Regions from separate parts of the Homo sapiens genome. Here region 2 is linked to region 1. The links come from fine-mapping of genetic effects on plasma protein levels. A gene starts in region 1. The other region holds a variant in brackets. All regions are shown on one strand. Distances are between the middles of the regions. Region 1 holds the start of RHOC (ras homolog family member C). Region 2 overlaps WNT2B (Wnt family member 2B).

The links. A credible set is the group of variants that fine-mapping cannot tell apart. PIP is the chance, under the fine-mapping model, that this variant and not a neighbour inherited with it causes the effect. Protein levels are from antibody-based Olink assays in UK Biobank. Linkage for the fine-mapping came from a reference panel and not from the study's own genotypes, which makes the PIPs less certain.
Region 2: its variant is the best candidate, but not a certain one, in a credible set for the plasma level of the RHOC protein (UK Biobank, PIP 0.61).

The regions. Positions count from the first base shown.
Region 1 is chr1:112,702,405-112,710,404 of GRCh38, reverse strand. It overlaps RHOC (ras homolog family member C), which reads left to right and starts at 3,278. Exons shown (of 6, transcript NM_175744.5): 1 at 3,278-3,327; 2 at 5,237-5,305; 3 at 6,599-6,761; 4 at 7,286-7,406; 5 at 7,712-7,842. The coding sequence starts at 6,606. PPM1J (protein phosphatase, Mg2+/Mn2+ dependent 1J) reads left to right here. Exons shown (of 10, transcript NM_005167.7): 10 at 95-407. The coding sequence ends at 242. RefSeq lists a silencer at 2,839-3,558 and enhancers at 4,818-4,867, 5,615-6,169.
Region 2 is chr1:112,515,754-112,523,753 of GRCh38, reverse strand. WNT2B (Wnt family member 2B) reads right to left here. Exons shown (of 5, transcript NM_024494.3): 3 at 7,337-7,614; 4 at 6,369-6,633; 5 at 1-3,474. The coding sequence ends at 3,245. It overlaps ST7L (suppression of tumorigenicity 7 like), which reads left to right. Exons shown (of 15, transcript NM_017744.5): 15 at 1-240. Among named protein-coding and RNA genes, the nearest start is that of WNT2B, 11 kb to the right of the region's middle. The variant C/G (reference allele first, on the strand shown) is at 4,417.

The DNA.
Region 1 (8,000 bases):
AGGGAAGCAATGCTTGGGACCCCACATGTGGGCCTGTGTATCTGTCTTCCCACATACATGTTGGTACATGAATGTGCATGTGTGCTCCTGGCAGGTATACAGCTCTGGCCCAAGCTCTGGTCCTGGGGGCCCGGGGTACCCCCCGAGACCGTGGCTGGCGTCTCCCCAACAACAAGCTGGGTTCCGGGGATGACATCTCTGTCTTCGTCATCCCCCTGGGAGGGCCAGGCAGTTACTCCTGAGGGGCTGAACACCATCCCTCCCACTAGCCTCTCCATACTTACTCCTCTCACAGCCCAAATTCTGAAGTTGTCTCCCTGACCCTTCTTTAGTGGCAACTTAACTGAAGAAGGGATGTCCGCTATATCCAAAATTACAGCTATTGGCAAATAAACGAGATGGATAAAGGTGTGTGTCTGTATTTGCTTTGACTAGAAACTGAAAGATAAGAAGAAAGCTCTGTGGGGTGGTGGAAAGAGCACCAGAACAGTTCTAGAAATGTGGTGTCCCCCAGGTTCTTTATTCCACCCCCACTCTTTCCACTCCACGCATTTGCTGTGAGTGTCATCATCCACTTCTGTGGCCTCACCCATCTGCCCAGACCCTTCCTGAGCTTTAGACCCACACATACCAGTCATCTCCCGAATGTCTCCTGGATAGCCTGCTGGCACTTCAATTCAAATACCTCAAACTAAATTCACGACTGCCCTCCATAGCATGTTCCTTCTCCTGGTATATCCCCTCAATGGGCACCAGCTCTGCTGCTCCAGTTAGAAATCTTGGAGTTGGTCACCCTTGGCTTTCATTTCTTTCTCATCAAGGTAATTGATCACTAAGTATTGTTGACTATAGACCTTTAAAAGTATTTCTCTACTTATCTCCATCTCTCCCCGCCTTCAGTCACCACCACCTTTTACTATATTGGCCTCCTAAATTTAGTGGCTCCTTATTGCGCCTAGAACAAAATCAACACTCAACTCCTGTGCATGGCATATAAGGACCTTCATGATCCAGCCACTGCTTCCTTCTCCAGCTTCATTTTTTACCACCACCACCAACTTCCTGGGGTTTGCATAACTGTGGGCTTTTAGTAGCTCCAACTTATTCAAAATCTACTGCTGGACACGGTGGTTCACGCCTGTAATCCCAACACTTTGGGAGGCAGAGGTGAGAGGACTGCTAAGCCCAGGAGTTTAAGACCACCCTGGGCAATAGTGAGACCCCATCTCTACAAAAAAATAAAAAATTAGCTGAATGTAGTGGTGAGTGCCTGTGGGAAGCAGTTAAGCATCCAAGGAAATTAAGAGTATTGCTTATAGTAGAAAAGAATAAAGATCTCAAATCAGTGATCTGTTTCCACCTTAAGAGGCTAGAAAAAGAACAGCAAATTAAACCCAAAGTAAGTTAAGGGAAGCAAAAATAAAGATGAGCAAAATAATTAGAAAAGGCCCCTCACCAGCCTGGGCAATATAGCAAGACCTCATCTGTACAAAAAATACAAAAATTAGGTGTGATGGTACACGCCTGTAGTCTCAGCTGCTGGGGAAGCTGAAGTGGGAAAATCATTGGAGCCTGGAAAGTTGAGGCTGCAGTGAGCTGAGATCTTGCCACTGCACACTTAGGCAACAGAGACCTTGTCTCAAAAAAAAATTAAAATTAAAAAAATCTACACATCACCTTATCTTGAGAACTTCACCTGTTGTTCAGGACTGGGTATCGCACAGCCCACACATGCCCACACTACAGCAATGACCTCCGGTATTGTAACTGTCTACATTAGGAGTCAGTAGGGAGTAGGAATTAAGAACAGGGGCTCTAGAGTTCAGCTGTTTGGGTTCTAGTGTCAGACCCAGCACTAGCTCTGTAACCTCTCTGAACCTCAATTTGCTTCTCAGTAAAATGGAGATAGCTACCTCATGGGATTCTTGTAGTTAATGTATGTGGACCCAGGTCCATGTAATATGGATTCAATAAATGTTAGCTATCTTGAAATTGCATTCCTCATTTAGACTCTAAGTTGTTTGAAGGCAGAAATGGATCTTCCGAACATAGCTCTCAGTTCACCCTCGAGAAATGTTCATTGAGTCAGTTAAGAGGCCTGGGGCCAAACTGCTGCGGACCTGTTTTCACATTTGTCAAATGTCTGGATTGCACTTCAGATATTTAAAGTCTGTATGACTCCTAACATTCATTCATTCATCAAATATTTGTTGACAACCTATTATGTGCCACTCACTCTGCTAGACAACGGGGGAAGGGACAGGCTGGAGGAGCCCGTGAGGTAGCAGGGCCAGACCACCAGTTTGGAGCCAGACAGGCCCGGCTGTGTGAATTCTTGCTGTCACAAGTCAAAAACAGTTGTGTAAGCCACTTGATTTCTCTGAACCTCAGCTTCTCTATGGGCAAAAGGGGATGGGTATATTTTCCCCAGAGATCTGTGATGAATATTGAAAGGGTTAAGCTGTGTAGTGTCCCAAGCACAAGCCAATGAAATGTTGGTGGACGTCCTCATTCTACTCCCACCTCCTCAGCTCCCTTACAGGGAAAGGAGATACGCGTGTAGGTAAATATCCTATGCGCCAAGTCAGACCTAGGAGTGGGAACAGAATTCACAGCTGGGATCCAGAAGCATTTCTAGGCGCACCCTTTGAGGAGTAGGTAGGAATTGGACTCCTGGAAATTCCAGGCCCAGGGAAGAAAGCGAATTGTGAGGAGGAACGGTGGTCTGGGTCTGAACGGCTCTGAGAGGTCTTCAAGTTTGGGGGATGACGTTGGGCTGTACGATCCTAGGAACAAGAGGGTGGACATCTCCCCCCAACCAACACACCCGCGCCGGGCCCTGGGACCTCCCGGCGGATACCCTTTCCCAGTCCCGCTTCCCGCGAGGTCCCAGGTGCAGCAGGAGCGGGTGGCCGCTTGGCCACAGGAGGGCAGCAGCGGCCCTTCCTGACCCCACCCCGAGCACCTCTTAACTTTCCCGACGCCGGTCCTCCCCTAGGGGATTGAAGGCTGGGCAGAGTCTGAGTCCACCCGGGTCGTGCTCCCCCCGCTCGCCCGGCTCCTCCGCAGTCCAGGAATCTCCCCGTGGCTCTCCCCGACCTGGAGGGGTGGACGCCCCTGGCCCCCAGTCCCCGGCCTGCGGAGGGGGCCGGTGGCTGCGGCCCTGCGCGGGGCCGGGGCGGGCCGAGCCAAGGGCCGCCCCCGGCCGACCCTCCCCCTGCCGGGCCCGCCCTCCCCGCCGCGGCGCTGGAGGAGGGCGGGGCGGGGCCCTGGGGTCAGTCTGAGCCTCCGGCACCGGCCGCGCAGCTGGAGGCGGCGGAGCGGAAGGTACCCTGGGCCGGGGCTGCGGGCGGTGGGGCGTCTTGGGAACTCGTCCCCAGGAGAGCACTTTCCCTTCCTCGCTGGCCCGGAGATCGGGGCCCGTGCGAGGAGGGGCTTCGGCCTGGGCGTGGACCCCGTTCCCTCCAAGCGGAGTCGGCATCCGGGCTGGGCGGTGGTCGGACCGCGTCGGCCCCTCCCCGGGCTGCAGCGAGGGGGCCCGGACCTGCCGGCAGGGGCTCTGGCCTCCTGAGGTCCGAGTCGGAGCCCCTTCCCTTCTCCTCCCAGCTTCCCGGAACCTGCCCCGCCGGGCGAGGGGCGAGGGAACTTCAACTCAGACGCCCCAGCCCCCAGGGTGGGCGGCCGCAGGGGACCTAGAGTGGGATGGGGTGGGAATTCCTCCAGGCCAGGAGGGAGGTATGGCGGGAATAGGGGCGGGATGTGACCATTGGGGCCTGCCACTGCTCGGCAGGGTCTGGACGCCGCCCTGGACGGTTCCTGGAGCCCGCTTGTGTTGAGGATAAGGGAGATGGGGAAGGATCCAACTCTGTGTGTGTGTGTGTGTGTGTGTGTGTGTGTGTGTGTGTGTGTGTGTGTGTGTGTGTGTGTGTGTGTGTGTGTGGTGTGTGTGTGTGTGTGTGTGTGTGTGTGTGTGTAGAGAGAGAGAGAGAGAGAGAAAATGAGATTGAGAATCCTCCTTCTTCATACTCGAACCAAGAAAGAGTATCCTGGGGTTTGGGACTGGGATCCCGAGGCCGAGTCCCGCCCTCACTCTGGTTTTAAAGTTGAGAATGCAGTATCTCTTGGTATCTCCAGAACGGATTCCTTCCCTAGGTGTAGGGTGGGCCGGCAAAGTCAACCGGCCGCTCTGGATCATCTGGGAATTCAAGAGAGCGATTGGAGAGAGGTCTGATGTAGCCACACTGTCTTGTCTTGGGGAAGGCCCCAGAAGTTCCAGGCTCCATTCCAGGCCCTGTGTGGGGCTCAGTTGCCCCTCTTAAGGGGTCAGTGGGACAGTCCCTCTGGGGCTGCCTCTCACAGGGAGTTGTCCATGCCATCTTGGCCTTGGGCCTAGTGTCCTGGCCTGGGCTGCCTGCTGTTCTGGCCCAATCATAGCCTGGAGGGAAAGTCTTCTAATTGGGCTGGAGGCTCCAGGTCCCTTAACGCATGCCTCAACCCCGGGTTTCTGTCCTCTGCCTCCCACCACTCTGGTGCCGTCTGAATTACCCTGCTGGGGGGACAGCAGTGGCATACTCATGCCTAAGTGACTGGCTTTCACCCCAGTAGTGATTGCCCTCCATCAACACTGCCCACCCCAGGTTGGGGCTACCCCAGCCCATCTTTACAAAACAGGGCAAGGTGAACTAATGGAGTGGGTGGAGGAGTTGGAAGAAATCCCAGCGTCAGTCACCGGGATAGAATTCCCAAGGAACCCTCTTTTTGGAGGATGGTTTCCATTTCTGGAGGCGATCTGCCGACAGGGTGAATGCCTTCTTGCTTGTCTTCTGGGGAATCAGAGAGAGTCCGTTTTGTGGTGGGAAGAGTGTGGCTGTGTACTTTGAACTCCTGTAAATTCTCTGACTCATGTCCACAAAACCAACAGTTTTGTGAATGTGTCTGGAGGCAAGGGAAGGGCCACTCAGGATCTATGTTGAAGGGAAGAGGCCTGGGGCTGGAGTATTCGCTTCCTAAAGGGCAGTGTGAGGTGGTGGTGGGGTGTGGGGAGTAGAGGCGTTCAGTCAGCCCAGTTTGACAGGATGTGGGACTGAGAGAAAAAGCTAGGTTTGAGGCTGAGATCAGGTTACCGTCGCTTTCTTAACTGCTCCCTGCCTGGTTGGTGCTGGGACTGGCCCTCATTTGTCTCTTCTTTTGGGGCTCCTCCCAGCCCAGACTCTAGCCCCCTCCCCCTTCCCAACAGCCTTGACTTCATCTCAGCTCCAGAGCCCGCCCTCTCTTCCTGCAGCCTGGGAACTTCAGCCGGCTGGAGGTCAGTTCCCCTCCCCAGGGAAGGAGGAAGTGAGGGAAGCTGCGAAGGTGTGATGAACTGTGCAGATGCTCGCTGTGTGTGCTGGGGGTGGGGGACACATGGAAGCCCGGGAAGCTGACTCCTTGCCCTGAGTCACAGGGAGGGGTGGGCAGGGCATGCGGGTGAGCTGGACTGAGGGAGGAAGGGGCTGTTCCAGAGTGGGTGGAGGTGATTCCCTGGTGGATTCTTCTCAGTCACTGTGCTGTGGTAGATGTGTGGCTCCCTACAGTGTGGTCATTGTCCCCTGCCGGGGGCTGAGTGACCCAGTGTTGCTGGCAGGCCTAGGAGGAAGGGGGGAGGAAGGCAGCCTGCCCAAACTCGAGCTGTGGGCATTGCTGGGACTGAGCCTCCTTTGTATTACTTGGGGCTTTGGGGACCGGGTGGGGTGGACCAGGGAAGCTGGCTGGCTGCTACCCCTGTCCTCTGTCTGGGTTTCCCTGCTTCTGCTCTCCCTCCTGCCCCTGAGGTGACATGTCGAAGAGGCACGACTTTGAGTCACACAGTCCTGCTTTGGGTGCTGTCCCTGCCCCTTATAAGCCACAGCTCTGAATCTGTCTTAACCTCACTGAGCCTTAGTTTCCTGGTTTGTCAAAATGGAAAGTGCACCATCTACCTTCCAGGCATCTGGGTACCGAAGGAGATAATTCCTGCCAAAATGCCCGACAGAGTGCCTGGCACCTAGGGGCTCTATAACTATTCTTCCTTTACCCACCTACCACCTGGTAGCTGGTTCTGCTACTCTGGTCCTAGAGAGGGACTCCTCATTTGTGACTGGACAGGTATGACTTGTGCTGAGGGACAGTCTGTTCTAGATTGGACCTTAGAGATTATTAAACTGTAAATGCATCAAAATCCTGGTAACCAATGAAGTCTGACTCGAAACCCTGATGTGTGAAGTAGATAGAAGCTTGCTCCCTGGACGTCCCGCATCCCTGAGCAGCTCTCTAGCTACCTGGAGTCCCCAGGTTGGCAAGTGGATTAGATTGAAACTCATGTTTTCCAGCTCCCAAGTGGGGTCATCATCTACCTCCCACCACTGTATTCTAACCCATCGAGGGAGACCTGTCCCTGACCCAGAGATTAGGAATTTCAAGCTCTGTTGTCGCACAATTGGTGTTTTGCCAGAACATGCCTGAGCAAGCCCCCTGTCCCTTTGCTAGATGCCTCGGTTTCCAGGGAGGTTTGGGGGCCCTAGAGAAGTGTTTTTGGACTTAATGGCTTTTCCTCAAATCCCCAATACGTCTTTCCTGGCAGCCCCACCATGGCTGCAATCCGAAAGAAGCTGGTGATCGTTGGGGATGGTGCCTGTGGGAAGACCTGCCTCCTCATCGTCTTCAGCAAGGATCAGTTTCCGGAGGTCTACGTCCCTACTGTCTTTGAGAACTATATTGCGGACATTGAGGTGGACGGCAAGCAGGTGAAGGCAGAAATGCCCTTCCCACCCCACCCTGAGACCCCGCCCCCCAGTCACTGAATGACCTAGTATGTCCTTCCCCATTCCTACCCCTGTCTTTGCTTCATTCTCCCTGCTGGAACCAGTAAAAGTTAGGAAGTAAATCTGCAGTCTTAAAAAACCTGGATATACTTTCTGGTTCTCCCACAGACTGGCTCTGTAACCTGGGCCGAGTCCCTTTGCCTCTGGGTTTAAGCTCCCCCACCTGCAAAATGGGGATGATGGTAAGACCTCCCTCAAAGGGTTGTTGTGAGAATTAACCAAAATAATGGTGCTCACAGTGGCAACTCAAGGGTCAAACACGTCTTAGATTTCTTTAACAAACTGACCTAATTTATGTTGTGGGACAGTGATTAATATAATGCCTGGTGCATAGCAGGTGCTCAAATAAAGAAGTTCAGTGAGCCCGAAGGACAGTGGTTTCAGGGGACCTTTGGGTGGCAGGGTTGGGGCCCTCAGGCCAGCTACTCACTGGCCCTGTGTGTCAGGTGGAGCTGGCTCTGTGGGACACAGCAGGGCAGGAAGACTATGATCGACTGCGGCCTCTCTCCTACCCGGACACTGATGTCATCCTCATGTGCTTCTCCATCGACAGCCCTGACAGCCTGGGTGAGGGGATTGGAGGGAGGGGACTGAGAACCCCTTGGAATCAGCCAGAGGTCTCGTGCCTTGGCCTGTCTTCAGTCATCTTCAGAGGTGGGGGTGGGGATGCAGGGGAGCACTCAGGCCCTGTTGGTCTCCTTTACTGTGGTAACTGGCCCTCTGAGGGCATACTACTGTTGAGGTTTTGAGCTGTGAAAGGGACCATCATGCTGAATGGCTTCTAAGACTGCTCTGGGAAGATGAGGGCCCCCCCAGGGGAGCTTTCTAGCTTAAGTGGAGGCACCGACACCTGTTGGTGCATGTCTACACAGAAAACATTCCTGAGAAGTGGACCCCAGAGGTGAAGCACTTCTGCCCCAACGTGCCCATCATCCTGGTGGGGAATAAGAAGGACCTGAGGCAAGACGAGCACACCAGGAGAGAGCTGGCCAAGATGAAGCAGGTGGGTACGGCTGCCAGGCTGGAGCCCCTGGGGAAGAATGCACCCTCTGAGGGGTTGCAGACGGGCAAAGGGAACTTCTCTCCAGCTACTGCCGTGTGTTAGGGGAAACAGTAATATCTCCTGGTGAGGGAGGACCCATAGGGTTGTGTCTGATGAGG
Region 2 (8,000 bases), 190 kb after region 1:
TAAATAGCACTTACTGTAATGTATTATACCTAAATGTTTATTAAAAGTTAGAAGAAATGAGTACCAACAGGAAGGAATGGAAGAGAGGAGAGGGGCTAAGACATTGCTGATCTGAGGGACAGACCTCTATCAAATAGAAGAGGGCTGGGAGAAGGGGTGATTAGAAGCAGAGTGAGGGAACTAAATGGAGCCCTGACTGCACCAAATAAAGTTCTCATTTTGCTGCTTGTTCCAAATAAATTAGTGTCTATTTGTGTAATGCAGACTAAATGCCAGTTGTGTAAAGCCAATCAATGCAGAAGCAAGCTAAGAACTAGGAGGAAAAATTAATTGCTTGGCCATCATTCCTTTTGGGACCACATAACCTCCGTGGTGGGGCTCAAATGGACATCATTTCTCTCTTATGCACCTCTCTTTTCAAACTTCTCACTCTCTGGACAGCTTGCTCTTTTCTTAACCATTTATAGGAAATTGCAAAACTTGCATCTTTATGAGCTAGAATTTGGAGCCCAAGGAAAAGCACAGAGTAGCATGAGATGCCAGAAGAGGCCCATTTCCTTCCACAGGGATGAGAACCAAAAACCAAAGAATAGAGAGTAGGGTATAGGTAGATTTAAGTCAGGTTGACGTCCTATGGAAGGCATATGCCATTATTTATGTGGTAACCTGCATGTTCTTGTGAGAACAGGGGCTGGCCAGGACCTGAGGCTTTCCCCAGCAGCCTGGCATATAATATAAGGCAGCTTCCTTTGGTAAATTCATTCAGCCCTATTGTTGAGTTCAGACTGACCATGACCCCCTTACCTCTCCACTACCCCAAAGCTTTCCTCAAGATGTCAGCTGTTCTCTTCCCCTCCCATTTCCCCCTCCTTAATCCCACCATTGGCTCATCAGTTATCCAGTTGACTCCATTCTGAAGGAAGACATTCTCTTGGCCTGACTCACTCAGGCCCATTTCTCCACAGGCATCCCCTTACCGCAGACCACAAGGGCCCTGACTAGCTCATGTTTTGTGTTAATGGATGTGAAACCAGAGCAAATCCCCTCACCAAAAGAAAAACCACCCTAAACTCTCCCACACAGGTCTCAGCAGGTTACACAAATATTAGTCCTATCATCCAAATAAATCTGCCCCCGTGGCCCAGAGCTATGGCTCCCCCAACCTCCTGCTGCCTGTGCAGAGTGAAGCTGCTTCAAAAACATGAGGACCCCAAGGGATATTGGAGAGGAACTTTGGAAAGACAGGGGCCTGTATCCAGAATTCTTTATGCAGGCTCCTTAATCTACAGACTTTTGTTAATACTTTATAGTCCTAAAGAAGGACTGTTCCTAGAGAAGTCATGATGGGCTAGACCAGCCAGGGGCTTTGGTGAAGAGGATCTGCGGGCTGGAGTTTGGTGCATAATTAAAACTCAGCGTCTGACAGCTGGGCACAGTGGCTTGCGCTTGTACGCCCAGCACTTTGGAAGGCTGCAGTGGGAGGATTGCTTGAGACCAAGAATTCAAGACCAGCCTGGGCAACATAGTGAGCTCCATCTCTGAAAACTATGTTTAAATTAGCTGGGCATGATGGCATGGCCCTGTAGTCCCAGCTAATGGGGAGGCTGAGGTGGGAGGATTGCTTGAGCCTGGGAATTTGAGGCTGCAGTGAGCCATGATCATGCCAGTGCACTCCAGCCTGGGCAACAAAGCGAGACCCTATCTCTAAAAGAAATAAAAAGAAAGAAAAAAAAGAACAGGTACGTATCCTCATTTTACAGATGAGAAAATAGAAGCTCAGAAAATTTAGCTACCTTGCTCAAAATATCAAAGCAAATGGCACAGCTGTGATTTTTAACCCGGGTCTGTCATAACCGCAAATTTCTATACCACTCTGCTGCTTTAAGATATCAACAGGCAAAAGATAACCACTGTCCAACTCACATAAAAATAGGACATCAAGTTTTGGGGGACTTCATGTCCTACCTCCAGCTTACTAAGCCTGCTATCTCTGGAGATTCCACTACTGCAAACCTAGTTAGGCAATGGGTAATAGCATTACCCATTAAGCCAAATGTGGAGTGAACAATAATAATAATCACTAGGACTTGGAGAGTCACTAAATAAAGATTTGTTGAGTAAGTGGAGGAAGGCTGCCTTCTAAGCTGTGTATCACTTTGGCCCCAACCTGCAGTACTCCTTCCCACTGTAGCCACTGACTCCTGCTCCCAGCTTCAAAGGCTAGGATCCTCTCATAAAGAATTACCAAAGCCAGAGATCCCTACCTGCCTAATATATACTGATGCCTCATGTGGGCCCTTGAGATCAGACCTGCTTACCTGCTCTCCCACCATCCATGAGTTGCCTATCTTTCTTTTACTCCATGTCTCCCCAAACCTGGCAAACCTCCAGAATAGTGCATGGGAAGAGAAGAAAAGAAAAGAAAAAAAAAAAAAAAAAAAAGGCAACACAAGGCCTAGCCAGACTTACTACATTAATCTATCCTAGGAGTGTTCTAGGGTGTTTTAATGATTTGTTAAGCATGGGAACCACTGCATTCCACCTCAGTTTGAACAGGCAGCAAGTAAGCAAAAGAGGCAGTGCTGTCCAATACAGGTTGAGAATGGTAGAGAGAAAAAGAGAGAATGAATGTGTGTTTGTATTGTTATGATTCTTTTTCTTCTACAAAACACAGTTTATAAACATATGAGCATGTGAATGGAACCTTGTCCACTATGGCTAACATCTCAGGCTCTCAATAATAGAATGTGGTAGCCTAAGATTTTCTTTCGGGGTACCAGGTAGTTCTGCTCAAACGGACTTCAGAGAAGGGACATGCCATTCATCTTTGTCCCATCTAACTTTGGCCAGGTAGAAACAAAAAGAAGCTCTCTACAGGTACCCTTCCTCTTGCACACCAAGAAGTATCGGGAAGCTGGTGCAAAGGAAAGAAAAAAGGAGCCTCAACTACGTACTTTAGTGCAACTCATTTCACTCTAAAGACCCCCTATCTCTTCTACTCTCCCTTCAAATCTCCAGAGCGGGAAATCAGGGAGCTTGCTCAGTTTCTTATATCCCCTGACAACTCCTTCCCAGGGCTAAGGAACCAGCCAGGACACCATGGTCCCTATGGATTACTCTCTACATCCTTAAATAGAAGCGGTAGCAGCCCAGGGTGGAGGGTGGAGGAAGGTGTGCATGCAAGGATCTTGTGCTTTTGAGTTGAGAGGCTTGAATTGGAGGGATGAGTGAGGTATCTGTGTGTTCAGGTTTGGTCCAGCCACTCTGCCTTCTTGGGGGCTTTGCAAGTATGGACGTCCACAGTATTTCTGCATTCCTTGCACCGTACAGCACAGCACCAGTGGAATTTGCACTCACACTGGGTAACACGGGTGACTCGAGTTGTGTCGTACCCTCGGCCACAGCACATGATTTCACAACCGTCTGTTCCTTTTGATGTCTTGCTGCAGACACGGCCTGCAGTGCCTAGGGAACCTGGGTTGGGGAAGAGAGGGAGTGAGAACAAAGTTATCTCTTCAGCTGCCCTGGATACCCTTAACCACATTCTCAGAAGGAAGATAAAAAGAATCGCTTTTTTGGGCTGGGCACAGTGGCTCACTCATGCCTATCATCCCAGCATTTTGGAAGGCCAAGGCAGAAGGAATCCTTGAGTCCAGGAATTCAAGACCAGCCTGGGAAACATAGCAAGCCCTGTCTCTACAAAAACTTAAAAAATTAGCCAGGTGCCATGGGCATGAGCCTGTAGTCCTAGATACTCAGGAGGCTGAGGTGAAAGTAACACGAGGCTGGGAGGTCGAGGCTGCAGTGAGCCAAGATTGCACCACTGCACTCTAGCCTGGGTGACAGTGAAACTCTGTCTCCAAAAAAAAAAAAAAAAAAAAGAAGCATGGGCTCTGACATCATCTTGTCTGGATTCAAATCCCAGTTCTACCACTCTTAGTTGTGTGATTTAGTCAAAATGAAACATTAACTTAGTTTCTCATATGAAAATAAGCACAATAATAGATTGTTAGATATAATCTCTGTTCATCTGAAGAGGTGAACTGATTACCATGACTGGCTGGAGGCATATTCCTAAGGAATTCCTAAGTAATATCCCTTGCATTATTATTATTGCTATTATCCCTAAGCATTATCCCTTCCCCTTACAGTGGAAACTCTAGGATAGGGATCATGTTTTCCCCATGCATAGGGAATGCTTAGAACCTCATTCTGACTGATTTTAGCAAAAGAGATCCTGCCAACAGATCATAAAATCAATAGACTTTTGGATGAGTTGGGCCCATGAGAGCATCTACTCCAAGCTTTTCCATGGTTAATAAGAATCCAGAGATGGGAAACTGACTAGCCTAGGTTCAAAACGGAGAATAGATTAACTGATTTCTACAGAATTAGTCTCCAAATGTCACTGGGATA[C/G]GGGAGGAAAATGCTAGAACTTCTATGTTTTTTATCTCATCAATTTAAAATATTTACGTTTTATAATATACATATTCATATAGTGGAACACAGGTATAAATAAATATACATATAATGGAGATATATGCTCAAATTGTTTTAATGATAGGAGTAAAGGATCCAGAATGTTAGGAGACCACTGGTCTGGAATGTGGACTGACTAGGTCTACTGTATATGTTAGTCTCCTAACTCCAAGGGCTGGGTCTTAAGTCCTCTTGGGCACCAAAAACCCCTTCTACACTGTGGAGCTGTGCTGTCCAGGGTAGCAGCCACTAGTCACATATGGTCTTTTACATCTAAATTAATGAAAATTAAACTAAAAAATTTAGCTCCTCAGTCACACTAGTTATATTCCAAGTACTCAGTAATCACATGTGGCTAGTTGCTACTGTATTGGACAACAGAGATAGGAAAACATTTCTATCATCACAGAAAGTTCAATTGGACTCTATTGCTTTGGAGGGAATTCCTGGCTCCATATTCTTTCTGGGATGACTTATATTCTTTGAATTCCAGGGCCCACTTTGGGTTTTAGGAGGCCTAATTTTATGCCTCTGAGAAAAACGAACACACATTTGACTTATCCTCCCTCCTAACTCCAAAGTTCCTTCCCTAAAGGTGTATTTTCAGTATGGTAGTATAGGTTTACACCTCAGATGTTATGGAATTATTTCTAGGTATCCAGAGAGTGACCCTCTGAATTAGACCAAGTGGGAGGAAAGTATACTTAGTGGCAGGAAATCACTAGGAAAATCAGAAGGGCTCCAAGTTTTTTTCTTCTAGCACCCTACAAAGTATACAGACTACTTTCTTCATTAATTGGGTAGAGCCCCACCCTTTTTCTGTGCCCAGTTTTACTCCAAGCCACTTGACTCTTCCAGGAATGACAGTGATGGGTGAAAACAAACAGTACCGAAGATAGCTGAGGTTTTTTGGCTCCACTTCACCCAAGTCCTGACGCTGAGCCTGTAGAAAAGAGCCTGGGAGCCCCACAGCAATAACCAGAGGAGAAGAGTTCTGCTGCATTGCATGTTCCTAGTTTAACCTATCTGAACCAGAAATGTGAGCCAGGATGGTAACTTTCATTCCCTTGGGGAAAAACCATATCAACTTCCAGCACCTCCAAGAATCCCACCACAAATACCTCGAACAGACTGAAAAACAACCATTTGCTGCTTTACCTGCCTTTGGTAGGGATCTCTTCTTCGTTTCTTTTTCAGCTGTTTCAGAATCTTCAATGGCAGCACACTGGATAAAGCCTTTCAAGGACATCTTTCTAGCTTTAATCTCCCTTAGAGAGAACCTTTACCCAGCAGATTGGTCTGTTCTCTGTCCCTGGGACAGATCATGTGCTTTCCCACCTACTACTCTCTGATAAGAAATTGCCCACTCGTCTCTCAAGCTATCCAGATACTCCCTACACTTCAAGGAGCAGCTTAAATTCTAGTTTCTTTTTTTTCCCTACATTTTCAAATAAACTTTATTGATTTCTCCATCTCTCTTTGCATTTGTCTACCCATTATGTCTCATTTCTTTAAGTAGATTGCGAAGAGCCAAAGGCTTAGGGCTGCATCTTATGTTTCTGTGCAGCCCACACATTGCTTAAAACTGAAAACAGGTAACTAAGTTAAACATACCCTGAATAATGCCTACTGTATCCCAGATGCTGGGATACAAAGGAGCGATGCATGACCTCAGGCCTCAAGGAGCTGAGTGACCTCCTCTCTACTTGGGCAGCACTGGGCCTGGTGGACTGCAACAATCTCATGACCAGGTGTTCATGTGGAGAGGAAACTGCCTCCTCCCACAGCACCCCCTTCCCTAACTCCTGAGACTGAACAGACCATGATTAACCAGGGGTGCCTGCACTAAGAACTGGGACTGCATGTCCCTGCCTGCCTTCCTTACTCACCTGCAGCCTTGTCCAAGACACAGTAATCTGGAGAGTTGTCAAAGTAGACAAGATCAGTCCGGGTGGCACGGCGATAGCCTTGGCGGGCTGCGGTGAAGTTGGCACCATCTTGGGTGGCCATCACCTGCACAGCCCCATCATAGCGTCGCCGCAGGTAATCACCTGTGCGGCGGAAATCTGAGAGTGCACGCCAGCAGGTGCGCAGAGTACAGGAACCACTCACGCCATGGCACTTACACTCCAGCTTCAGAAACCGCCGCACAGCCTGGGGGAGGGGGAAGGCAGTTAAGGGAGAAGTAGCTGGTCAGGACACATTTTAGTCATCCCTAGGTCCAAAAGGATGAGTGCTCTGAGATAGGCTGGACCTGGCCCTGGCTGGCCGATTGAGCTCTCGGTTCTCTCCCACATCAGATCCCACCCATTCTTCCTGATCAAGTTCAAGAAACTCTTTTTCCAGGAAATCTGCCTGAACCAACAGTGCTTTCCTTTTCATGACAGCCCACTGAACTGTAGAGCCACAGGATTCTGTTCACGATGACAGTGTGCTTGCACATCCTCTACTTTTCACGTTTTAGAGTGCCAGGTACCATGCCTTCTACTTTAGTGGTGTGCCATTTTCCAGCATAGTACTAGGCACATAGAAGATGTTCAAATACCAGGGAACTGACTAGAACAACCTCTTATCCTCTCAGTCTTTATGAAGGCAGTTCTTTTCCTTCTTAAAAAGTTACTTCTTTTCTCCACCTTTTCCTACTTTCCACCTATGTGAAGACTCTTCACGCACCTGATTGACCCTAGGCATTCCTAAGCTCCCTTGCATTTAGTTCTCCTGTCCCAGGATGTTGGGGCTTTTGGAAGTGACCCAGAAGCCTTCAGCTCTTCCATCTTCACATTTATTTAGTCCATGGTCACACACACTGGTCACCCCCAGCAAATATGAGTGTACTTACACAGACATGAGTACTGACCGTGCGACCACAGCGGTTATTATGTAAGTTCATGAGGGCCCGGGCATCCTTAAGCCTCTTCTCCTTGGCATCCACGAAGGCCTTGGCAAAACGGACACCGTAGTGGATGTTGTCACTGCAGCCACCCCAGTCAAAGTCCCCACGCTGGTCATGGTGTCGGCCACGGGTGTAGGGGTCACAGCTGCACACACTCAGTTCACCCTGGCTACAGGCGCGAGTAATAGCGTGGACTACCCCTGCTGATGAGATGGCATATACAAAAGCTGCCTCTCGGCTACCTAGAGAGAGAATTGTAGAGGTGTGCTTCAGGAAAGAGGCCCATGTCTGTCCCCTTCTTCAGCCCATACAACCTCTGACTCTGAAACCTCTTCCCTAATTTTCTTTCCCAGAGTCACCCCTACACCCCCTTTATTCAAGGTGCCTTTCATTTCCAAGAGCATTCCCCAGAGTATCTGACCTCTTCCCCTCAGCCCTCACTACTCTCTATCCACTTCTTTGTATATCTGACCTTTTGAGCTGACCTATACTCTTGTTTCCTGCCAAATTCCCTGTGTCCATCCATTGAAAAGTCTCCTGGTGAATCATCCCCTCCCACTGAGTGCCAGCACTGGCTCAGCTAAGCCTGCCTTAGTCCACATTCCAGGCCTTTTCAGGCCCACTCTGC